Homo sapiens: one gene and its partners. The protein of the gene in region 5 purifies or fractionates together with the protein of the main gene of each other region. This does not show direct contact. Each region holds a gene or a part of one and is shown on either strand. Other genes may lie near its edges.

The links.
Region 1: the proteins of LIN9 (region 5) and SLMAP purify together in Homo sapiens (affinity purification with mass spectrometry; 2 studies listed by BioGRID and IntAct, with this or other methods). This does not show direct contact.
Region 2: the proteins of LIN9 (region 5) and DIS3L purify together in Homo sapiens (affinity purification with mass spectrometry; 2 studies listed by BioGRID and IntAct, with this or other methods). This does not show direct contact.
Region 3: the proteins of LIN9 (region 5) and TMOD3 purify together in Homo sapiens (co-immunoprecipitation; one large-scale study listed by IntAct). This does not show direct contact.
Region 4: the proteins of LIN9 (region 5) and SMARCA5 purify together in Homo sapiens (affinity purification with mass spectrometry, with the first as the bait; one large-scale study listed by BioGRID). This does not show direct contact.
Region 6: the proteins of LIN9 (region 5) and CHD5 purify together in Homo sapiens (affinity purification with mass spectrometry, with the first as the bait; one large-scale study listed by BioGRID). This does not show direct contact.
Region 7: the proteins of LIN9 (region 5) and HBS1L purify together in Homo sapiens (affinity purification with mass spectrometry; 2 studies listed by BioGRID and IntAct, with this or other methods). This does not show direct contact.

What each region holds. Positions count from the first base shown.
Region 1 is NC_000003.12:57,759,309-57,762,808, reverse strand, and holds part of SLMAP (sarcolemmal membrane-associated protein), read right to left. Parts: intron 1-3,500. UniProt on the Homo sapiens protein: Associates with the striatin-interacting phosphatase and kinase (STRIPAK) core complex, forming the extended (SIKE1:SLMAP)STRIPAK complex.
Region 2 is NC_000015.10:66,331,568-66,334,398, reverse strand, and holds the end of DIS3L (DIS3-like exonuclease 1), read right to left. Parts: exon of another isoform or gene 2,531-2,831; intron 2,525-2,530; coding exon 2,379-2,524; intron 1,664-2,378; coding exon 1,489-1,663; intron 1,396-1,488; coding exon 1,087-1,395; 3' UTR 501-1,086; downstream 1-500. UniProt on the Homo sapiens protein: Catalytic component of the RNA exosome complex which has 3'->5' exoribonuclease activity and participates in a multitude of cellular RNA processing and degradation events.
Region 3 is NC_000015.10:51,836,153-51,839,652, reverse strand, and holds part of TMOD3 (tropomodulin-3), read right to left. Parts: intron 1-3,500. UniProt on the Homo sapiens protein: Blocks the elongation and depolymerization of the actin filaments at the pointed end. The Tmod/TM complex contributes to the formation of the short actin protofilament, which in turn defines the geometry of the membrane skeleton.
Region 4 is NC_000004.12:143,523,702-143,527,201, reverse strand, and holds part of SMARCA5 (SWI/SNF-related matrix-associated actin-dependent regulator of chromatin subfamily A member 5), read right to left. Parts: intron 2,836-3,500; coding exon 2,735-2,835; intron 1,752-2,734; coding exon 1,651-1,751; intron 922-1,650; coding exon 742-921; intron 1-741. UniProt on the Homo sapiens protein: ATPase that possesses intrinsic ATP-dependent nucleosome-remodeling activity.
Region 5 is NC_000001.11:226,267,665-226,271,164, reverse strand, and holds part of LIN9 (protein lin-9 homolog), read left to right. Parts: intron 1-3,074; coding exon 3,075-3,208; intron 3,209-3,500. UniProt on the Homo sapiens protein: Acts as a tumor suppressor. Inhibits DNA synthesis. Its ability to inhibit oncogenic transformation is mediated through its association with RB1. Plays a role in the expression of genes required for the G1/S transition.
Region 6 is NC_000001.11:6,121,322-6,124,821, reverse strand, and holds part of CHD5 (chromodomain-helicase-DNA-binding protein 5), read left to right. Parts: intron 1-160; coding exon 161-305; intron 306-714; coding exon 715-874; intron 875-3,248; coding exon 3,249-3,328; intron 3,329-3,500. UniProt on the Homo sapiens protein: ATP-dependent chromatin-remodeling factor that binds DNA through histones and regulates gene transcription. May specifically recognize and bind trimethylated 'Lys-27' (H3K27me3) and non-methylated 'Lys-4' of histone H3.
Region 7 is NC_000006.12:134,981,823-134,985,322, forward strand, and holds part of HBS1L (HBS1-like protein), read right to left. Parts: intron 741-3,500; coding exon 636-740; intron 1-635. UniProt on the Homo sapiens protein: GTPase component of the Pelota-HBS1L complex, a complex that recognizes stalled ribosomes and triggers the No-Go Decay (NGD) pathway.

The DNA of each region.
Region 1 (3,500 bases), on a different chromosome or scaffold from region 5:
AGGAGGGAGAGGTTGCAGTGAGCCGAGATTGCGCCACTGCACTCCAGCCTGGGAGACAGGGCAAGACTCCGGCTCAAAAAAAAAAAAAAAAAAAAAAACCATTCTACTATCTGCCATCTAATTTGAAGAGCTTGACTTCCGAAAAGGATGAAGGATAATACACAGGGCCAGCATCCAACAAGGCAATATCCAACTGCTACATTACTGAGAAGATGATTTGGTAAAGATTATGAAACTCTGCTTTGTGCCAAACCTGTCACCCTTCAACATGCAGATTTAAGTATTATACAATAAGATATTCCATGAGCTTAGCATTAAAAAGTGTCACTTAGATTTCCACCTGCCTACATTTTGCAGATATTCTAAAATGAACATGTATCATTTGAATAATCATAAAGTTTCAAGTGTTTATTATTTCTTCCAACTTTTTTTTTTTTTTTGAGACAGAGTCTCACATTGTCACCCAGGCTGGAGTGCAGTGGCGCGATCTCAGCTCACTGCAACCTCCGCCTCCCGGGTTCAAGCAATTCTCCTGCCTCAGCCTTCCCGAGTAGCTGGGATTGCAGGCACATGCCACCATGCCCAGCTAATTTTTTGTATTTTTCGTAGAGACAGGGTTTCACCGTGTTAGCCAGGATGATCTCGATCTCCTAACCTCGTGATCCGTCTGCCTCAGCCTCCCCAAGTGCTGGATTACAGGCATGAGCCACCAAGCCTGGCCTATTTCTTCCAACTTTTTTTTTTTTTTTTTTTTTGAGACGGAGTCTCGCTCTGTCGCCCAGGCCGGACTGCGGACTGCAGTGGCGCAATCTCGGCTCACTGCAAGCTCCGCTTCCCGGGTTCACGCCATTCTCCTGCCTCAGCCTCCCGAGTAGCTGGGACTACAGGCGCCCGCCACCGCGCCCGGCTAATTTTTTGTATTTTTAGTAGAGACGGGGTTTCACCTTGTTAGCCAGGATGGTCTCGATCTCCTGACCTCATGATCCACCCGCCTCGGCCTCCCAAAGTGCTGGGATTACAGGCGTGAGCCACCGCGCCCGGCCTTCTTCCAACTTTTAATGAGCCTCCCATAATGGACAATGCAGAATGCAACAGTCACCACAAAGTGAAAGTCACCCAAAGCACATATTACCCCAATTGTCGACCGCCCAGGTAAACTGCCAATTTAGACAAAGTTATCAACTACATCAGTTTCAATTTTAAAAATTTCTTCTGGCCAAGCACAGTGGCTCATGCCTGTAATCCTAGCACTTTGGGAGGCCGAGGCAAGTGGATCACCTGAGGTCAGGAGTTTGAGACCAGCCTGGCCAACATGGTGAAACCCTGTCTCCACTAAAAATACAAAAATTAGCCAGGCATGGTGATGAATGCCTGTAATCTCAGCTACTTGAGAAGCTGAGGTAGGAGAATCTCTTGAATCCAGAAGGTATAGGTTGCAGTGAGCTGAGATCGCACCACTGCACTCCAGCCTGGGTGACAGAGCCAGACTCCGTCTCAAAAAAACAAAAAACAAAAACAAAAACAAAATTTATTCTATATATGCCATCACATTAAAGAAAATAATTTCTCATCACCTTCCTAAGACTCCATAGCACTATAGCAAATTGCACAGTGTTGTCTAAATAGTTCCCTCTTCCCCACTAAACACCCTCTCTGCTGAGTATTGGGTGCTTAGTAAGAGCCAGGGACAGGGTGCTAAGTGATTTATATAATTACCTCAATTCTCAAAACAATAATAGGTACCATTATCATCCCCAGATGTTTAAAAAAAAAAAAAAACCTGGCCGGGCGCGGTGGCTCATGCCTGTAATCCCAGCACTTTGGGAGGCTGAGGTGGGTGGATCACCTGAGGTTGGGAGTTCAAGACCAGCCTGACCAACATGGAGAAACCCTGTCTCTACTAAAAACTCAAAATTAGCCACGCGTGGTGGCGCATGCCTGTAGTCCCAGCTACTCGGGAAGCTGAGGCAGGAGAATCACTTGAACCCAGGAGGGAGAGGATGTGGTGAGCCAAGATCGCGCCATTGCACTCCAGCCTGGGCAACAAGAACGAAACTCCTTCTCTGAAGGGATTCTTTTTTTTTTTTTAAGAGACAGGGTCTTGCTTTGATACCCAGGCTGGAGTGCAGTGGCATAATCACAGCACTGCAACCTCAAACTCCTGGGCTCAAGCAACCCTCGTGCCTCAGCATCCCGAGTAGGTGGGACTACAGACACTGCAAATTTCATACGAGAACTATTTGGTCGCACTGTGGGTTTTCTTTGGAACTGTATCCCTCACAGTGTCTGGCACATAATAGATGCTCAATTAAAACCTACTATCTGTCCAAACCAAAACTTTAAATAGTTAATTCCTAAAACAATTCAATGACATGGTAAGATCTGACAGAGCATCCGCTATAACTAGATTAAGTGGTATAATAATCAATAATTACATCTATATCTAAAGTAGTGGTCTCATAGCCTGCGTGTTATTTTAGCTAATAAAGCAGGAGGAAAAAAGTGAAAATGGTAGAAATAAGCCATATCTACCATTCAAAGATAAGTTTTTCTGAAGAACTAATTTCATGGCCGGGTGTGGTGGCTTATGCCTGTAATTCCAGCACTTTGGGAGGCCGAGGAGGGTGGATCACTTGAGGTCAGGCGTTCAAGACCACCCTGGCCAACATGGTGAAACCCAGTATCTACGAAGAATATAAAAATTAGCTGGGCATGGTGGCATGCGCCTGTGATCCCAGCTACTCAGGAGGCTAAGACACAAGAATCGCTTGAACCCAGGAGGCAGACGTTGCAGTGAGCTGAGGTTGCGCCACTGCACTCTAGCCTGGCCACAGAGCGAGACTCCATCTCAAAGAAAAAAAACAAATATTAACATGTCATCTCAATTCATGAAACAGTCACTACTGACCTATTCTTAGTTATCTCAAAATAACCTATTGTGAGAGTTTTAGTACAGCCATGGAAAGCACTGGGCATGAAATCAGTATTTTTCAAATAAGTAAAACAAAAAATGGGAGTCCCCTTCGAGTGTTTCATCAAAGAAAGTGCATTCGCAGAGTATGTACTGTGAGCCAACCTGTTGTCTGATTAGTTTAGACCTGTTGCCCAAGAACATAAAATGGTGAAAATGTAAAAGCTGGTTGAGTTAAGGCACTACTTAGTAGTAAACTGATGTTTGAATTCAACTGCTGGAAAAATGAGTTCTATGAATATTCATTTTAAAGAATTATGAGGGCCAGGTGCAGTGGCTCACGCCTGTAATCCCAGCACTTTGGGAGGTTGAGGCAGGTGGATCAACTGAGGTCAGGAGTTCAAGACCGCCTGGCCAACATGGTGAAACCCTGTCTCTACTAAAAATACAAAATTAACCAGGCATGGTGGCGTGTGCCTGTAATACCAGCTACTTTGGAGGCTGAGGCAGGAGAATCACTTGAACCCGGGAGGCAGAGGTTGCAGTGATCTGAGATAGCGCCACTGCACTCCAGCCTGGGTGACAGGAG
Region 2 (2,831 bases), on a different chromosome or scaffold from region 5:
GCTACTGTCCCTGGCCAATTTTTGTATTTTTAGTAGAGATGGGGTTTAATCATCTTGGCCAGGCTGGTCTTGAACTCCTGACCTTGTGATCCACCCGCCTCGGACTCCCAAAGTGCTGGGATTATAGGCGTGAGCCACTGCGCTCGGCCTAGAGTTAATTTTTCTAGTGGGGTGTTTGCTGGCAAAGTAACAAGTTTCCAACAAGGGGAAGGCCAATGCACCTCATCAAAATGGGAGAGTGGGAAGGAAGGCCTGTGACAGAACTTTACCTGTGCATCCTACCACCCGCCCTGTGTCCTAATCCCAGCTAGTACTGGAGACAGCAGGTAAGGGTTGAGTCAAATATGAAATAGGAATTTTTAAGTGGAGAAGTGGACTCAGGACTAAGTCTTATTATCTGAAAGTGACTGAAAATTACCTGACAAATGTCAGAGGGGCCTATGACCCAAACGTAATTACTGGAAAAATAAAACATTTGAAAGAACTGATTGGAGACGAGATAACCAGTAATTTCGGGTTTATTAAACTTATTAGAAAGGGGCCATCTGCAGAGCCACCACTTACTGTCCACTCATTACTGAAAACTCTGTTTCCATAGTGACCTAATTATACTTTATTTAATGCAACTTTAATGAATGAGAGAACTTTTTTTTTTTTTTTTTTTTTTTTTGAGATGGAGTCTCGCTCTGTTGCCCAGGCTGGAATGCAGTGGTGCGATCTCGGCTCACTGCAACCTCCTCTTCCTGGGTTCAGGCAATTCTCCTGCTTCAGCCTCCCAAGTAGCTGGGACTACAGGCGCATGCCACCACGCCGGGCTAATTTTTGTATTTTTAGTAGAGACTGGGTTTCACCGTGTTAGCCAGGATGGTCTCAATCTCCTGACCTCGTGATCCGCCCGCCTCAGCCTCCCAAAGTGCTGGGGTTACAGGCGTGAGCCACCGTGCCCGGCTGAGAACATTTTACATATATGCGAAATAGCTACCCAGTCCTGATCGACTAGAGCACTGAGTGACACACATTAAATGTTAAGTTTGAAAAGACTGTAAAACATTCACATATGACAGCTCTTAGTGAAGTAAGAGCCTCTCATATTCCATAATTGTTTGAAACATCCAGGAGAGCTAGGTCCCGTATCTCCTCTAGAAGTGTGTATAGGCTCCTTCCCTTTGTTTGGCGATATTCTTGATATTCCTCCTGAATGATGTTTACTTTGACTTCTTGGGCAAGCTGAGCTTCTTCCACAGATTTAGTTACTTCTTTCACTAACTCACTCTTCAGCAAGGGGGAACTCTGATGAATAAGTTCTGTATTTGGTATCTTGTATGGTTTGTTACTAATTATTTCAAGTCTGATTGTATCAGAATGGCAACGTGAGGCCTGTATGGATATTCTTACCTAGCATAGAGAAGAAAATACATATTACTAAATCACATTATTTATTCCTTACATTTAAAATATTAATAATACTTAATAGAAACACAGACTTACGGTTACATGGTCAAACAAATGGAACGTAACAGATTCCCCATCTGTTGTAGTAGAGGTAATTTTGTTTTGAAATCGTTGAAGGGATCCTGGTTTCCATTCAGAACAGCTATCTGGGCCACATGAGATGACTAAACCATCTTTATTTTTTAGATAAGCAGCACCTTTAATCCCAAACCTATATTATGACCAGAATATAAATCCAGAGACAATGTATTCTTAGTACACAGATCTTGTATGCTTATCTAGAATACTAGTTTTTCTCCTAGATTAAAAACAAATCACTTTTCCTGTGGTTTACCTCCACGTATTTATTTCACCTTAGCAGATGGAAACAAAGTATTTTGCTGGATAAGAAAGACCCTAAAATGGATATAGAAGTGTGTGTGTATATATATACACACACACACACACACACACACACACACTCCAGTCTTCACTTTTTTTTTTTTTTTTTGAGACAGAGTCTTGCTCTGTCGCCCAGGCTGGAGTGCAGTGGCACGATCTTGGCTCACTGCAACCTCTGCTTCCCGGGTTCAAGTGATTCTCCTGCCTCAGCCTCCCAGGTAGCTGGGATTTCAGGCATGCGTCACCATGCCCGGCTAATTTTTGTACTTTTAGTAGAGACGGGGTTTCACCATGTTGGCCAGGCTGGTCTCGAACTCCTGACCTCAGGTGATCCGCCCACCTTGGCCTCCCAAAGTGCTGGGATTATAGGCGTGAGCCACCCCTGGCCTCCAATCTTCACATTTATATACTGAATTATACATTACATTATGTACATATGATAACTAGTTGCTTAAATATTTTAATAAATTATATCTAATGTACAGTTTGTGTTCTACACTTTTAACTATGATTTCTTATGCACCATTGCATTAGATGTAACATACCTTGGTATAAATAGAAGCACACCATTTGTTCTAATTGAATAAATAACTCCGTCAGATATGCAACGCTCCTCGGTGGCAGGGTCTTTGTCTTTGAAGTACATGCACTGGAAGAGCTCAGTAGACTGCTTCTGAGAATGCTGTGCTGCCTGTAAGAAGCACAACTCCAAAGCATTTTAACACTCCCCTGGCATTCCCCAAAGAAACGAAATTCATATTCATTCAAATGTGAGATTCTGTAAAACTATTAATATAAAAATTGTTCTCTACTATGAAATTAAATTACTTTTTGTGGGAACTTAACCATCTAGTATTATCTCCTCAAAAATGTCTTAGAAAATGAATTATTTTATAAAATGAAACCCATTTATAGTTCATGAAATTAGAGATCAGCAAATTTGGGTCATGTTCACCTTGGGTACAGGAAAAGTATTACACATGTCTTACTTGCATTTC
Region 3 (3,500 bases), on a different chromosome or scaffold from region 5:
ATTGTTTGAGCTCAGGAGTTCAAGGCTGCAGTGAGCTATGATCACACCTGCACGCCAGCCTGGATGACAGCGAAAGCCTGTCTCGAAAAAAAAAATTGCTCTGAATTGACTATTATACCTAAAAGTTAATCCTAATGGTCAAATGGCAAGTCATAGGAATAAATAGACACCAAATAAGAGAAGACTGAGTGTGGTGGCTCACCTCTGTAATCCCAGCAATTTGGGAGGCCAAGGCAGGAGGACTGCTTGAGCCCAGGAGTTTGAGACTAGCCTGGGTAACATAAAGAGACCCCATCTCTATAAAAATTACAAAAAATTAGCCAGGCATGGTGGCACGTGCCTTTAGTTCCAGCTACTTGGGCAGCTAAGGTGGGAGGATTGCTTGAGCCTGGGAGGCGGAGGTTGCAGGGACCTATGATCACACCTGCACTCCAGCCTAGGCAACAGAGTGAGACCCAGTCTCAAACAAAATGGAAAAAAAAAAAAAGAGAGATACACCTATTTCTTAGCTGTCAATCTGCCAGATGCAGGGAACATACCAAAAAAGAGAAGGCATGGTCACTTCCTTCTGACATCAAAATAAGCATGTTTTGAGATGAACAACCCCAAACCTCCTTGTGTGGGGGGACCCACCCCTTATTCCAGTCCCTGTGAAATATACAGCCAAAGAAACAACATAACAAAGCCACATCTTTCACAGCTGTTTGGTACAGGGGTCACCACTCTCAATCTAACCAGGACGGATCAAATTCAATTCTTCTCCAGAAATCTGGAAAGCTGGGAGACAAAACTCAAGTTGAGACATAAGGTATCACCAAGTCTGGAGGCACTACCATAACAAGCTAGTCACCTTGAAGCTGAAGCTAAGGGGAAAGCACAGAAGGTCAGTCTGCAGGGAAGAGAATGAAGCAGGGCTGGGGCTACAGGGAAAAAGTAAAGGAGGCACCTGCCTCAGGGTGTCTCAGTATTTAATAGGGTGCAAAAAAGCTCAGCAATCAAGATAAATTACACAGTAATGCATACTATTTTTTAAAAATTAAAATTAATGTCCTAAAATGGAGCAGAGGCACAGAAAGAAGCCAAAGAGAGCCCTACAAGCAGAGAGAGGACAGAGACTTTCAAAGTGTCTGCTCTGGGTACCAGTGGTAGGTCATTTCACGGACCTCAGCAGCCTTACAATAGTAATGCAGTACAACTCCCAGCTCTGCCACCATACCATCTAGCAAGATAGCTTAAGTGGGTTTGTGTTCCCGGAGACCTAAACACCTTGACTAACATACTCTATTTGGGAAAATGAGACATGCACATAAAGTGCTTTTTGTTTTTTTCAAGAAAATATATAATTAACTGCCAAAAGAATGGTACTGGCTATTAGTGTACAGAAATTCAGAGATCACTGTGGGTGGTCAGGGAGGGACAGAATTAGCTACACAGAGAGGAGTGGAGAAGTATATACTAAACAAAGAGATCAAAGCACAGGCTGAAAAAGGTTGGAGCTGGGAGGGAATCCAGGGCAAGAAGAAGAAAAGTAAAGGGAAAGGAGCGATCTTCACACACCCTGTGTTACACAGAAGTAAGTACGCCTCCATGCTCTTCCGCCTGCAGCCCTTACATCACACGGTTCATTACACAGGAAATGTCCTTTTGCACTCTTTCTCATGTTCAAATCCTTTCACATCTTTCAGGGACCAGTTCAAGTAACATTTCTGCAGAGGCTCCCCTTGTGTGCTATACCAGATTCAGGCAGTGGGAGAAGAAAAGAGGAAACAGTTTCTTCTGAGGTAGGAGGGAAGGCTAAGGGGCTTAAAGCAGTGCCAGCTATTCTCTGGTGGAGGGCACACTATATCACTTGGAATGCTGGCCAATGTCTAAGGAAAGCAGGAAGTGAGATGACTTGACAAGGAATAATAATGGGGGTTCAAGAAAAGTGGCAGAGGAAAGGCAAGCACAGAGGGTGTGCTGAGGACTAACAGAAGAGCCCACCTGCCCCGAAGGCCTTGCAGAGGTGAAATCCTACACATCTGCCTTGGTCCATTTCTGTGTAGGGTTCTGTAATTTTTCACCAAGAAACTGTAAATCTTAGGGACAACAGGAGAAAAACAAAAGTGGGGTGGGCATGACTTTGAAATCATCACATATTTATTGCTATTTCCAGTGAAATTAGACCCCCAACTCCTCAGCTGGTCTAGCACTCAAGTGGGCACATTAAAGAGGAAAAAAAAAAAAAAGAATAGTTCCCTAAGAGTATTAACCTGGGTTAATTATAGCCCACCATGAATGAAAATAAATCTTGGGGGTTGTATCATATCTTGTCACGTTTGCCTCAGGGTAAGGGCTGCCTGAATATAAGCCAGACTCATATACATTTGAGGGGCTTCTTCTGAATATTCCTTAACTCCTCATCAAAGTTTTACCACCACACCCAGGGAATGAAAATATTTTGTTGGCTGTAATTTTCCACATGGATGGAAATCCCCTACTGTATAAGTATCACTAATAATATCCTGCTCAAAAGAATTGCTATGCTATGGTTAAGGAAATACAACAATCTTCTTACCTACAAGTCTATATATATATATATCAAACCCAGCCCTCATTTTCTTCTAGTTTACCATGTTTTTATTCACTTTCTCACAGACACTTCAGGAACTGTGTTCACTTGTATGTACTTATCATGATGTTCATGCTTAGTTATGCCCAGATATGAAACTGTTTATTTGTAGGGGGTTATCATCACTGTATATGTTACCTTAGTTTGTAAGTTTGTCTTAGTGTGTTTGTGTTCCTTCCTTAGTGAGTGGGTGCAGGTGTTGAACATATATACCCGAGGCAGTGGATATCTTTATAGCTCAAAAAGGGTGCACATCTCAGGAGGAACCTTGACTGTATTTCAGTATTTTTCTTTTTTCTTTTTTCTTTTTTTTTTTTTGAGACGGAGCATCACTCTGTCACCAGGCTGGAGTGCAGTGACATGATCTCGGCTCACTGCAACCTCCACCTCCCAGGTTCAAGCGATTCTCCTGCCTCAGCCTCCCGGGTAGCTGGGACTACAGGTGTGTGCCAACATGCCTGGCTAATTTTTGTATTTTTAGTAGAGACGGGGTTTCACCATGTTGGCCAGGATGGTCTCGATCTCCTGACCTCGTGATCCACCCGCCTCAGCCTCCCAAGGTGCTGGGATTATAGGCGTGAAAACGAATTCTTAAGAGTAGTATAAGGGTGAAAGAAGCCAGGCACAAAATATGACATATTATATGATTCCATTTATATGAGATGTCCAGAAGAGGCAAATCTTAAGAGAGAGTAGATTAGTGGTTGCCTAGGGCTGGGTGGGGGAGACCAGGGGGGAATTGGGAGGAATTAGGTAGTAACTGCTAATGGTAAGGGGTTTATTTCTGGTGTGATGAAAATGTTCTAAAATGGTGGTGATGGTTCTACAGTTCTGAATGTAGCAAAATCCACTGAACTGTACACTTTAAATGGGTGAATTGTATGGTGTG
Region 4 (3,500 bases), on a different chromosome or scaffold from region 5:
TCTCTTCTTCCCACAAGGATGTTGTCAACTGATCGAAATTTTAACTTATTTTGTTAAATATCATAATAAATCACCAAATTACTATATATGACTCAACCCGTCTTTAAAAACTCTAATTCTGTGACTATTACCACTACACACATTCATCTAAAAATGTGGCTCCTTAAATTTCCAACCAACTCACATTTCAAAATATCTTTTAAAAACAAGAAAATAACTTCTAATGAGAGCACAACCAATGATTTTATACAACCACTCCCAAAAGGGAGAGAAACAAACTACAGTCTTACAGCTTTCTACCATTTCTAATGTCTTCTTCCCAGTATGATTTTTTTTTTTTAAGATGGTCTTGCTTTGTTGCCCAGGCTGGAGTGCAGTGGCGCCATCTCGGCTCACTGCAACCTCCACCTCCCAGATTCCAGCGATTCTCCTGCCTCAGCCTACCAAGTAGCTGGGACTACAGGCCATGCGTGCCACCACACCCAGCTAATTTTTTGAGTTTTTAGTAGAAACGGGGTTTCACTGTGTTAGCCAGGATGGTCTCGATCTCCTGACCTCATGATCCACCCGCCTCGGCCTCCCAAAGTGCTGTTTTTTATCCACCAAGACAATGCTACATTTGTAAATACTAATATTTGCGAAGATCCCGTCTCATTTATCCTTCTTCCAGCTATACCCATACCCAAGCCTGAATTCAAATTATTTTAGCCTCAAAAATGTAATGAAATACTAGAAACTTACTCTTTGTTCTTTATCTCCTATCAAACAAACAGATCTAAGTGTTGGTACCCATCTCTTGAATTCACTCATCCAGTTGTGTAATGTAGACTTAGGAACCAAAACCATATGAGGCCCAGGAATGTTTCTATAATGTTTCATGTACCCAAGAAGAGAAATTGTTTGAAGAGTCTTTCCTAGGCCCTGAAAGATTTCAAAATAACCATGAAGCAGTGAAAAATGAAAATATTATTTCACAATTATACCTCCCAACATATAGAAATGTTCAAAAGAAATGCTACATATTTATAACAGTTAATAAATGGCAAAAACTTAACATATATCAAAGTTTGTAAGTGTTATGTCATATAATTTTCACAAGTCTCTAAAGGAGGTATTATTATCACCCGCATAAGGCCCCGTTTAAGTGACATTCCCAAAGTCATCTAGCAGAGCTAGCATTGAAACACATTTCTTTTGACTTCATACTTTCTCCAACCAATTAAACGTTTTAGCATTATAGCAATAAGGAAACTTTTTTAAACATTCATTACATAACTAGTAGTTAACAAAAGATAAATGTTTTCTAAGAATTGTACAAGCTACCACCTGGAAAAAACATTTATCAATTATAAACAATTAATGACCTCACTTTTGTTTTACAAAACTGGAAGCAAATAAATCATTGTACTATAAAAGTCATCCAAAAACATGTTTCTCAAATGTATTCTTTTTAAATTTATCATATTTTCAGCGATGGAAATTTCTCACAATTAAAATACAGATCACACTTATGCAACTAAGGCAAGCTGCTTATACTAGTTTCTGAGAGGATCCATTTGCTAACAGTTGTAGACTGTAAGAAACTTTTATCAACGTATAAGATATTTTCAATACAAAACATACCCTTCAAAAAAAACTACCAACACATACCATTTCATCTGCAAGGATACCATTGATGCCATTCTCATACAAAGAAATGAGCCAGTTTAATCCTCGGACCTGATAATCTCTCAGTTTACCCCATTTTACATCTAAGAACAAAAGAAAAGCACAATAGGCATTTTAAGACAAGAAATACAAGGCAATCTCTTCATCTAAGCCTACACATATCTACTGACTTTATTTTCATTACTAACGGATTCTTGAATAGGAACTCTGCAAGTTCCAAAATACTAGAGGTAGCTGCCATGGTCTGAAGTGGAAAAGCTGGACATGGAAGATAATCAAGTGCGGGAAACATGACTGCGGGCATCAGAGTACCCACTCCAACAACTCAGTTCTTACGTTACCCATATACTGGTCTGAGAGACTCTTTGGCCTCTCGTCTTTTTAATGAAAAACCAAGTGTTCCTAACCAAGTATTTTCAGCTTTCATAAAGACCAGATACAGGTTATCTGGGGATTTTATTTTCTTTCTAGTAAAAAAAAAAAAAAAAGAAATAGGAAATTCCTAAGTTACTTGTCCAATATATCTTATACATTCCAATGCACTCTCTTTCAGGGTATACTACTTATTTTGCTCCCCAGAATAATTACCAAATATACATAACGGTCACCTGATTTTTCTTTTTTAATATGTACACAGTGTAGCCCTCCATCTCCTTTTGAAAAACACTTGAGGATAAAAAGCTAACCAATAAACAAATACATTTCACAAAAAATTAAATTAATATAAAAACATCAGAAGTAAGCAAATGTGTTCATGAAGTACCTTTTTTAAAATAAATTAGTTTTCTTATGTGGGACAAATATAAAGCAAAACGATCCTTAGATTTACATATACTTCAGGGCAATAACAAACACAATGACATTTTATATAACTTTGAAATACAGCACTACTATCCTGTAATATGCTCTCATCTCCATCAAAATCTGAAGTTTATTTCATAACCAATAAACATCTAAGACTACTAAAAATTTGCTTCACAAATAGTAGCCAACACAAATCCAAAACATTAACCAAAGGAGATCTCAAAGGGCAATTTTTTAAAAAAATCAAGTGTGTTTAACATACACGATGGAGAGTCTTCAAATCGAGTGCAAACATTGGTTGCTTTGGAGCTTTCTGTTAATAGCTCTTCATCCTCCTCTTGCTCTGTTCTACGGTGTCGGTAACTGTTAAGATGAAAATAAAATAACCTGATTTGAGTTTTGGCTTTAATTATCAGCTACTGTTTAAACATCATAGTCAAGTGGCTGACCAAGATTCCACAAAATTAAATTTTTAACAGGCATCAACCAGTGGACAGTAGAAAATATGAGTACATTTAAATCTGCAATGTTTTAAATAATTATTTAAAATATACATTAGTTATTAAAATACACCAGTACGATACATTAACCAGAACCCAATAAACTCAAATATGATAGTCAAATTTCAAGAACTATGTAGTCAGAAAATCTCATTATTTGAATTTTAAAGTGTACCTTTTTAAAAATCTTTTTGCCAAGGAAAAAAAAGTTCCAGAAACCACATGTTTAAAATTGTAACTTCGAGCAAAAGCTGCAGCATAAGGACTCAGAAATTTAAGCAGTGACCACGGATTCATCAAAAAAATTTTTAAATACACATCTAAATTCTACATCCTAAGAGAATCAGATATACTACCCCCTTAAAAACTGATTTTCTAAAGTTTTAATACTGCCAATTAATCTCTAAAGGGCTTGGTTCAGTAAAACTATTAATACTTACTCCCCAATTCTGACACTTTCAACAAATATTTTCATCTTATTTAGAAAAAGGCACGTTATGCCTCTGTTGAGACCGCTGAATCTAATTT
Region 5 (3,500 bases):
ACATGATACTTTAGCTACAGTATATAGAAAGTTGTTTGAGACGTCATACTTAAGCCACAGTTGTTTACCCCTGGAGAAATGAGAGTGTTAAAAAAGATATTAAAATCATTGATTTGTTAAGAAATTATAAGAATCTGAACTATCCTAAAAGTAATCTTTGTAAAATGAACGATAATTCCAGGTTATCTGGGATTTTCTGTAGGTTATCTAAAGGAGTAAATGGAAAAGAAATAAAAAAGATTTTATTTATCAAATAAATTTTTCAAAAAACAGAAATGAAGAGAATAGGAAAAAAGTACATACATACACAAACCTTTTTTTTTTTTTTTTTTTTTTTTTTGAGACAGAGTCTTGCTCTGTCTTCCAGGCTGGAGTGCAGTGGTACTATCCTGGCTCACTGCAGTCTCTACCTCTCTACCTCTTGGGCTCAAGCAATCCTCCCACCTCAGCCTCCAGGGACTACAGGCACATGCCACCATGCCTGGCTAATTTTTTTGTATGTTTTTGTAGAGATGGGGTTTCACCATGTTGCACAGACTGGTCTTGAACTCCTGAGCTCCAGCGATCCACCCTCTTGGGCCTCCCAAAGTGAGCCACCACGCCCAGCCTACTTTAATTCTTTGAACATATTTATAACAGCTGCTTTTTTAAGTCTTTGCTAAATATCTCTCTCAATTTCTTACTGTACTTTTCTTAAGAGCCATGCTTTCCTACTTCTTTACATGTCTAGTAATTTTTGGTGGAAAACTTGATATTTCAGATAATATATTGTAGCAACTATGTATTCTAATTTTTTGGAGAGTTGTTGGATTTGCTTTAATAACTTGGCTATGCAAATACTGATGTCTCTGCTTCATTTTTTATTCTTATATTTATTATTATTATTAAACTTGATTTCCAAAGAGTTACCCCTGTGTCTGCATATAATTTAGTGGTCAGGGCTGGGTGCGGTGGCTCACGCCTGTAATCCCAACACTTTGGGAGTCTGAGGCGGGCGGATCACCTGATGTCAGGAGTTTGTGACCAGCCTGGCCAGCATGTGACACCCTGTCTCTACTAAAAATACAAAAAAAAATTAGCCGGGTGTGGTGGCGGGCACTTGTAATCCCAGCTACTCAGGAGGCTGAGGCAGGAGAATCACTTGAACCCGGGAGGTGGAGGTTGCAGTGAGCGAGATCGTGCCACTGCATTCCATCCTGGGCAACGGAGCGAGACTCCCATCTCAAAATAATAATAATAATTTAGTGGTCACCTAATGATTTGAACAGAGGTTATGCTCAAACATCTTGATCGGGAAAAGCCTCACATTGATTTATATGTGAGTTGGGGAATGTAAATACAAAGTTGCTGCTAGTTTTCAAGTCATCCTTAGCTTTTACTTTTTGCCAGACTATTGGATCTTCCCCCTCCATTTGCATAGTAACCCAGTTAGCCAGGGATGGTAGAGAGCTTATTTCCGCCCTTTTATGGCTCTCTAGTTTCCATGATCTCCCTGTTAAATTTCTGGCTGTCTTTCATGACCAGTCAAAATTCTGGCTGGTTTTCGTGACCAACCCTGAACTAATAAAACCATTCTCATCGACCACGTTGGTGGTAGTAGTGGGTGTGTGAATAACCTCGTGCAAAGAGGCCACTGAGTCCCCCTGCCCTAACCTGAAGCTCTAGCACTTCTTCAACAATAAACGTTTCTTGTTTTCTACATTTGATCCATTTCCAGTACCCTGGAATGGTTGTTTTTCACAATCTCATTCAGGTTTGTACTTGTTTTTTGTGGAGAGGAATTACCAGCCTCTTCATGCCACCATAACTAGTAGTCCTTTTCTATGCTTATATTTGTTTACTCAGCTTCATTATTTACATCTTCTGTATCCATGTTTACTTTTCCCTTAAAGGATCTGTCAGAAACTGAGAGAGATTTTAGTCCTCTACAGTTGTGTTTTTATCAATTGATCCTTTTATTTTAAACAGTCTTGCATTGTGTATTTCTGTGTTCTATTAAAATGTTGTGTATTATACTTTTTGGTTAGTATAAAATGTATTACTTTGCCCAGTTTACAGCCATCAATGCTGTTGTTCTTAAATTTTTTACTCATGCTGGATGTTTGTTTGGATTTCTCTGATGTTATTTTAGGCTGGACTTAAATAATAGTGACACAGTTCATCTGTGTCATCAGTTCCAAGACTACTAGTTTTGGTGATTCACTAGAAAGACTCAGAATACTCAGCACATGTACTCATGGGTAAGATTTGTTACAGTGAAGGACACAAAACAAAATTGGCAAAAGAATAAGGTGCTTGGGGCAAAGTCCAGAGGAAACCACGTGCAAGTTTTCAAAAGTCCTCTCCCAATAGAGTCATGCAAGACTTTTAATTCTCCCAGAAACAAGTTGTCACAATGCTTATAAGTGTTGTCTACCAGGGAAGCTCATTAGAGACTCAGTGACCAGAGTTCTACTGGGGGCTGAGTATGTAGGCATCTTTTGCCTAGTACATACTAAAATTCCAGTCTTCCAGAGGGAAAGCAGGTGTCCAGCATTAACCACATCGTTTGCACAATCTAGACACAGTAAAACCACCATTATTAATTAGGGAACAGTGGGAACACTTCCGAAATCCAAGTTCCCAGATACCAGACAAAGGCCAACCTTGCAAGGAGGTTTTCCTAAGTATAGCAGCATCAGGCCTGCAGTATTAACTTCTTTAATTATTTTCTACACAACATCTTTGTCTTTTTTTTTAAATTGAACTACTCCTGGTGCTTCACTCATGAGTATAATGACCAAAGTTCTTTTGTTGTTTTTTTTGCAGTTAAATGATTTAAAATATTTTTCTCTTAATTTGGGAGTAATATAATTTTATTCAAATATGAAATTAGGGATCATCATTTATAGTTTTTGTTTTTGTTTCAAAAATTCTTTGTTGTTTCTCTAAGCCAAAAATAAAGTGTGTGCTTGTTTTGAAACTCTAATAGACAAAATACTGTACTATGATTTAAATTACATGCTTGGAACAGTTTTATATTTGACTATTCTTTGTATCTCCCACACATCATAATGCCTTTGTTCTTTTCTCAGCACGATTACGTGGTGTTCATGATGGTTTGTTCACTGGACAAATAGATGCTGTGGATACTCTTAATGCTACTTATAGAGTAACTTTTGATAGGACAGGGCTTGGAACCCATACCATCCCTGACTATGAAGTTCTCGTAAGTAGTATTTCATAATACATTTGTGTTTTATGCCTGTTAAATGTGTTATATAGAGTTTTTTTAGAAATCGTATTTTATGATAGAATCAAGACTTTATCTCACAGAGGAAGAGATCCTTAGGGGACCCCAGCCCTATCTGCTAGACCCCTGGTTCGGATCTATACTTAAGTCTTCCATTTGCCAGGAACTAGCATTTCTCTGTTGGACCTTAACGACACAGCACTTTAGTATAACCAAACTGATGAGTCCTGACTAAATAACCTTGGAGAAGAAGCTACATAACATTTTC
Region 6 (3,500 bases), about 220 Mb from region 5:
AGGCCCTCTCTGTCCTTTCCCGGGCCTGGCCCAGGCCTGACTAGGAGGTGGGCGATGGTTGAAGATCAGCCAGGAGTTCCCCTGGGGTCCTGCCAGCCCTCTCAGAGGGTTCTTGCCGGCCCCCCACTCCCTGAGCCCCAGTCCCCCCCCCCCACCCCAGAGCCTATGTGTCCCTCTTCATGCGGCACCTGTGTGAGCCGGGGGCGGATGGTGCAGAGACCTTCGCAGACGGCGTGCCCCGGGAGGGCCTCTCCAGGCAGCACGTGCTGACCCGCATCGGGGTCATGTCACTAGTTAGGAAGAAGGTGGGTGAGTAACTCTCTGTAGGGCCCTTCCTGGTGGCTGCCTGGGCTCCTGGTGCTGTCCCTTGTGGGTCAGTGGTCAGAGAACAAGTGCCTGGTTCAGGCCACACAGCTGCCCAGGGTCCGAGTCACTCCAGAGGGACTGACCTGGAAAGCCTTTCTGGGTGAGGGGCCTGTGGGGTGGAGGCCAGGATGGTGGGTTACATACAGTTGGAGGACACACAGAGGGTGGGAGGGTGGGCAGGGGAGCTTGTGGTCAGGAGGGGCCTGGCTTGGCCAGCCTTGGGCGGAGGTAGCAGCTACCCCAAGCCTGTGACACTTTCAGCCCCCCTGGCTGCCCTGAGGCCCTTAGGGCTGAGTTGCCACCACTGCCCTCCCTCTTTCCCTTCCACCTTCCCTCCCACCACCCCAGGTTCAGGAGTTTGAGCATGTCAACGGGAAGTACAGCACCCCAGACTTGATCCCTGAGGGGCCCGAGGGGAAGAAGTCGGGCGAGGTGATCTCCTCGGACCCCAACACACCAGTGCCCGCCAGCCCTGCCCACCTCCTGCCAGCCCCGCTGGGCCTGCCAGGTCTGTGGGCTGGGCGGGCCGGGGAGGGCACTGGGGTCATGGAAAGTGGCAAGGTCACAGAAACCCCTAGTCTAACCCACAATCCCACAGAAGACGGCCTCTCCTTCCCCCAAAGCCTCTGTTTGCTGAAATGTCACTCTACAGAGAGTTTTCCATTTTAATGACAGTTACGAGATATAATTTATATACATACTGCAAAATTCACTCTTTTAAAAAACTGGCTGGGCGCGGTGGCTCACACCTGTTAATCACAGCACTTTAGGAGGCTGAGGCGGCAGGATCACCTGAGCTCAGGAGTTTGAGACCAACCTGGCCAACATGGTGAAACCCCGTCTCTACTAAAAATACAAAAGATTAGCCGGGCATGGTGGCACGTGCCTGTAATCCCGGCTGCTCGGGAGGCTGAGGCAGGAGAATCGCTTGAACCTGGGAAGCGGAGGTTGCAGTGAGCCAAGATCACACCACTGCACTCCAGCCTGGGGGGACAAAGCAAGACTCCATCTCAAAAAAAAAAAAGTACTATTCAGTGATTTCTAGTATATTCGTAGGGTGTACAACCATCGCCACTGCCTAAGGCCGGAATATTTTCATTCCCCCTGAAAAAGAAACCCTGTACCCATTAGCAGCCACTCCTTATCCCCCCACCCCAGGCCTGGGCAGCCACTAACCTGCTTCCTGTTTCTGGATTTCGCAATGCTGGATGGTTCGTGTATATGGCACTGCACAGTGCGTGGGCCTTTCTGTCTGGCTTCTGTCACTCAGCCTGGGGGTTCCAGGTTCATCCACATTGCAGCGTGCATCAGTGCTTCAGTCATTCTGTCATTCTGCCTTATGGCTGATAATGTTTTCTTTTTCTTTCTTTCTTCCTTTTTTTTTTTTTGAGATGGAGTTTCGCTCTTGTTGCCCAGGCTGGAGTGCGATGGAGTGATCTCGGCTCACTGCAACCTCCGCCTCCCAGGTTCAAGCGATCCTGCCTCAGCTTCCCGAGTAGCTGGGATTACAGGTGCCCGCCACCACACCTGGCTGATTTTTGTATTTTTAGTAGAGACGGGGTTTCGCCATGTTGGCCAGGCTGGTCTTGAATTCCTGACCTCAGGTGATCCACCCTCCTCGGCCTCCCAACGTGCTGGGATTATAGGCGTGAGCCACCGCGCCTGGCCGATAACGTTTTCTTGTATGAATTTACTGCATTTTGCTTATCCATTGCGCTGTCGATAGATTTTGGATTGTTTCTACTTTTTGGCTGCTGTGAATAATGCTGCTGTGTTTTATGTTTTTGCGTGGACATACGTTTTGAGTTCTTTTGGGCAGATATCTAGGAATGGAATTGCTGGGCCGTGTGATAACCCTGTTTTCCCTTTTGAGAAACTACTAGACTGTTTTCCAAAGCAGCTGTACCATTTTACATTCCTGCTAGTATTGTGCGGGAGTCCCAGGTTCTCCACGTCTTCAGCAGTAATTGTTCTCTGCCTTCATGGTTCTAGCTGTCCTGGGAGCATGAGGTGGTGTCTCACTGTGGTTCTGATTGGCATTTCCCTGATGCCAAGGACGCTGAATGTTGTTCGGTGTGCGTATTGGCTGTTTGTAGACTTGTAGAAATGTCTTTTCAGATTCTTTGCACACTTAATTGGGTCATTTGTGCCCGTGTCACTTTGGTGATCTAGGTATTTATTTGGGTGAAGCAAATACCTGTTAAGTACTTGGTCCGTCGGTTGGGCCTCACAGGCCTGGGGCGGACATAGCTATCCCATGGTGATGGGTGAGGCCAGGCCCTGAGAAGCTGCACCTCCAAGCACAAGGGAGCCCTTGGAGGTGGACACATCTTGGTTTGCTTCTTGGCTTTGGCCTGAACTCTGTCTAACCTTGGGCAAGTCACCTAACCTCTGTGGGCCTCCGCTTTCCCGGCTGTGCCCACCTCCCGGGGCTTCTCAGAGCTGTGTAAGTGACCAGCACTTTGCAGTGTGTTGGCGGCTGGCTTGGCAGGGAGGAAATTCACCCCCTGTCCAGAGGCACACACCAGCCAGCCCGCCCGAAAGCTGGGACCAGAGCGGGTGTCGTGGCTCCCAATCTGGGCCTCCATCTGCCTCACTTCCCTGCCTCCAGATGAGCAGCCACGGCTGTGTGCGGCCCCGTCCTGACAGCCCCTCACTTTGGTCTTACTGGGTTCAAGGTCCTCCAAGCACTCCTGAGTCAAAGGCCTGGCCTGGCCTCTCTGACTTAGCCGGGGATCCTGCTTGTCTCTCCTGGAGGTGCTTGGCTGCAGTGGAGCCTCCCGAAGGCCAAGCCCCCATCTCTCCTCTCTGCCACCCCACTCCCTGCCCTACTCCTTCCCGTCTGAGCCCACCTGTCTCAGCTCTTTCCCTTGATCTTTCAGACAAAATGGAAGCCCAGCTGGGCTACATGGATGAGAAAGACCCCGGGGCACAGAAGCCAAGGCAGCCCCTGGAAGTCCAGGTGTGGAACTTGCTGGCGTCTGGGCCTGTGGTGTGTGTGGGGTGGAGGTTGGGTCTGGGGACCTTCTCAGGCCCTGTACAGCGAGGTGGAACCCAGGCCTCCTGGCTCCCTTTTCGGGGCTCTGAATCGGCGGGGAGCAGGCTAGGAGCAAGCGACGGGAGCCAGGAGACTG
Region 7 (3,500 bases), on a different chromosome or scaffold from region 5:
TAAATATATATATGTGTGTATATATTAGAAGACAGAAACAATTATCAGTCATTATGAAAAAAATTAGATCTATATGCAGAAACAGTGACTGGCAATTTAAACTAGTTCAATTTCTCTTTTCAACATTGGGTTTTTCTCCATTTGAATGTTACTTATATCTTCCTATAAAATATACCTACATTTTTGGCATAAACATGATCAAAGCTGTTAATTTATAGTTATTCTGAAACATACATTTCAAAGTAACAGACTGTAGAAGGCTGCTTTGCCACTGACTAGTTAGGGTAAGGCTGGGACTAGATTTAATTTCTGCTACAGAATATTATTCCAAATACATCTGTGAGGTATCTATACATATCTGATTAAATCCTAACCAGGCTTCTCAGATCTGTGTCAAAAATAGAATGCTACTACAGTTAGAATGTTTATGTACATATATATACAGACACAATCACAACAGAAAAAAATCGTTTAATGTTTTCACATTTTAATCTTCAACAGTCAGTATCATTTTGACAGTCAGTTACAATTTCAGTAAGAGGTTACTTACTTTGGAGTTGTAACTAAACCACTTTTTAAAAATCTGCTGTCTCAACTTAAGGCTTGTTTAGCAAAAGCATCTTGCAGATAAATACCTTTCACGGTACAAGTTTCATTAGGAGGCATTGCCAGTAGTCGGTCACCAGTTTGGATATAACCAGCTTCTATTTTACCAGTTATGCAAAATCCAGATCCTTGATCTGCAAAACATACCAAAATCTTATGGTTCATACAGCAATGTTATCTGATGATTAATACCGTTAACTATACTTAGTTCTCAAGTAGTCATATAAAACTAGTAGTTCAATGGACATTAAATAATAATCATTTCAGAATTAACATCTCTACTAAATATGGCATACCACACTTTACTTTTTTTTTTTGCAAATAAAAATACTCATATTACCAAAGAAAGGTTCATTCCTTTCTCAAATATTTATTGAGAAATAATAAATACGTAGTACCAGATATTATACTAAACTCTGGGGATAAAAAAAAATAAAAATGTAAGTCCCTGCCCATAAAGATATTATACTAGTGAAGAGAAAGATGGAAACAATTACATTGTCCTGAGACAAATAATATGTAAAATATACAATAGAAACACAAAGGTGCACCAAAGAATCCATGATGGTGAGAATAGACATCTGGCACTCTGAAGAAGGAATAAGTGTTTATTAGGTAGCTTGTATGCATGAGTAGGGAGAAAAAGGAAGACACTGCTGCCCCAGGAAACTGTGTGGGCAAAGGCATAACCAAATGTGGGATGGGCTAAGAGTCATGTGTCACTTGTGGGGGCCATGGGGAGGGGACCATATAGAATAATGAAGAAAAGGTAAGACAGGAGGCAACAGAGATAGGCAAGGGAGAAATAATAAAGGGGTCTCATAAATCACGCTTAGGGTTTAAATTTCATCCTGCAGTTAAGTAATAGGAAGCCAGTAAATATTGTGACCGGAGAAGTAAGGTGATGGTATTTCTGTCTTAGAGTAGAGGCTGATACAAATGCACAAACTTACTACAGAAAGGGAATAAACTCAAGAATTCGGGAATAAGGAATAACAAGTTTGGAGTGGTAAGGAAAGTGAAGACTAATGACAGAAAGGGGAAAATGTGAGATGATGATGCATTAACTGTGAGATATGAAACTAAGGACAAGATCCATTTTAGGCTTGGTAAATCTGAAGTGTCTATGAGACACACACATGCAGAAGTTGCATTCCGGGGGGACCAATCACACCACATTCCATGAGAATGGTACCCCTAAAAGAACACTCTCCCAGGAGAGATGTCCAGTAGTGCTTAGACAAGTGTGTGGAGAATGAGTGAAAAGGTTTGGGTTGGAGATACAGATTTGGGAAGCATCAAGATGCAGAAGGTAGAGACACTCATGGATGTCAGTTCAAAAGGAACTTGAAGACTAAGAAGAGGACTGAGGCAGCAGAACACTGTTTAAAAGACAGAGAATGAGGAGCCCATAGAGAAGATATAGAGAGGTCAGAGATAGACAGGTCAGAGAAATAGACAGGTTAACAGGAGAAAGCAGGTCACAGAAACCAAGGGAGGAGTTTCAAGGTGGATGTGGCTACCAGCATCAGAACCAATGCCAAATTCAAGTAAGATAGAATTGAAAGTGTATATTGACTTTGGCAACCAAGAGGTCATTTCATGACCTCAGGAGGAACACACTCAGGAGAGCAGCGTAGGCGGAAGCCAGGAAGCAGCCTGAAGGGGGAACAGAAGGTGAGAAAGTACAGTCAGCAAACACTGTTAATCAAAGAAAAGTAACCACCTCTTGTATTCTTGATAAACAATGGGCATCTTGGAAACTATTAGCATATTTCCTCTATTACTAGAACACTGGAAGCTAATAATGATAATGATAAATTTTGATTTCATTGCATGATTTTTTCAAAGCACCTTCATTCATTCATTTTTTTATTCATGTGTTAAATGTATTATGTGCCAGGCACTGGGCTAGGGCCGCAGATATAGATAAAGAAGAGATAGTACTTGCCTTCAAGGAGTTCATAATCTAAGTGGGATAAACAGACAGCATAGAAAAAATTATAATGCTGCATGAAAGCACAATGACAGAGGATACAGAGAATACAGAGGGACGCGTCAGGGCATGTGCGCAGGTAAGCACGCCGGTTACCAATTTACTGCTGCTCAGTTCCACATTCACTCTGCATTGCTGGCTCTGTGACAATGGAGATTTAGAGGACAAATGACATCCTTACAGTTTTTATTATTGTAATAATAAATCTTATATCCTTTTATTTATTGAGTTTTTAAATTGTATTTCCACTTTATAGTCTTCTATATAGGATCTTGCCCTTATTAAGTTAGATATATTCTTAGGTATTTAATATATCATCTCTTCCAGCAAGCTCTGAACCTCTTCTACGTTGGTCCTTCCTCAGCCCTATCTATAAAGTTTCTGTATATCTTTTAGTTGCATTTTTATCATAGTTAATAATTCTTTATATTACATTTCCCATTTCACCTATGTATGGTATCTAACTCCTAACTGGACCCAGACTGTTACAGATGGGGAGGAAATGGACAAGTAAAGAGAAAGAACAATACAACAGGGAAGCACGGGTAGACATGTGGCAATAAACACATCCTGTGTGGTTAAGAAACAATAAACAATCCAGTTTGGTTGAAGGATTTGAAAACTAAAGGAATCTAATGGGAGAAAAAAAAACTATAAAGTTAGAAAGACAAAAGGCAAGGTTTTCTTATGCTTGAAAGATGAGAAATGGTGAGTAAACTGAAGGTTTTCCTGGACAGGGAAGCTAAGTGACTAAATCTGTGCATTTTAAGATTAATCTGACAGTGATCCTTACTTGGGCATGGAGAGGAGAGACTCTGAAGGCAATATACTGTCATAACTTAGTCCAGGAAAGGAGGTTAGGAGGGAATGGGGAAAAGGGGCTATACTGAAGAAGCAC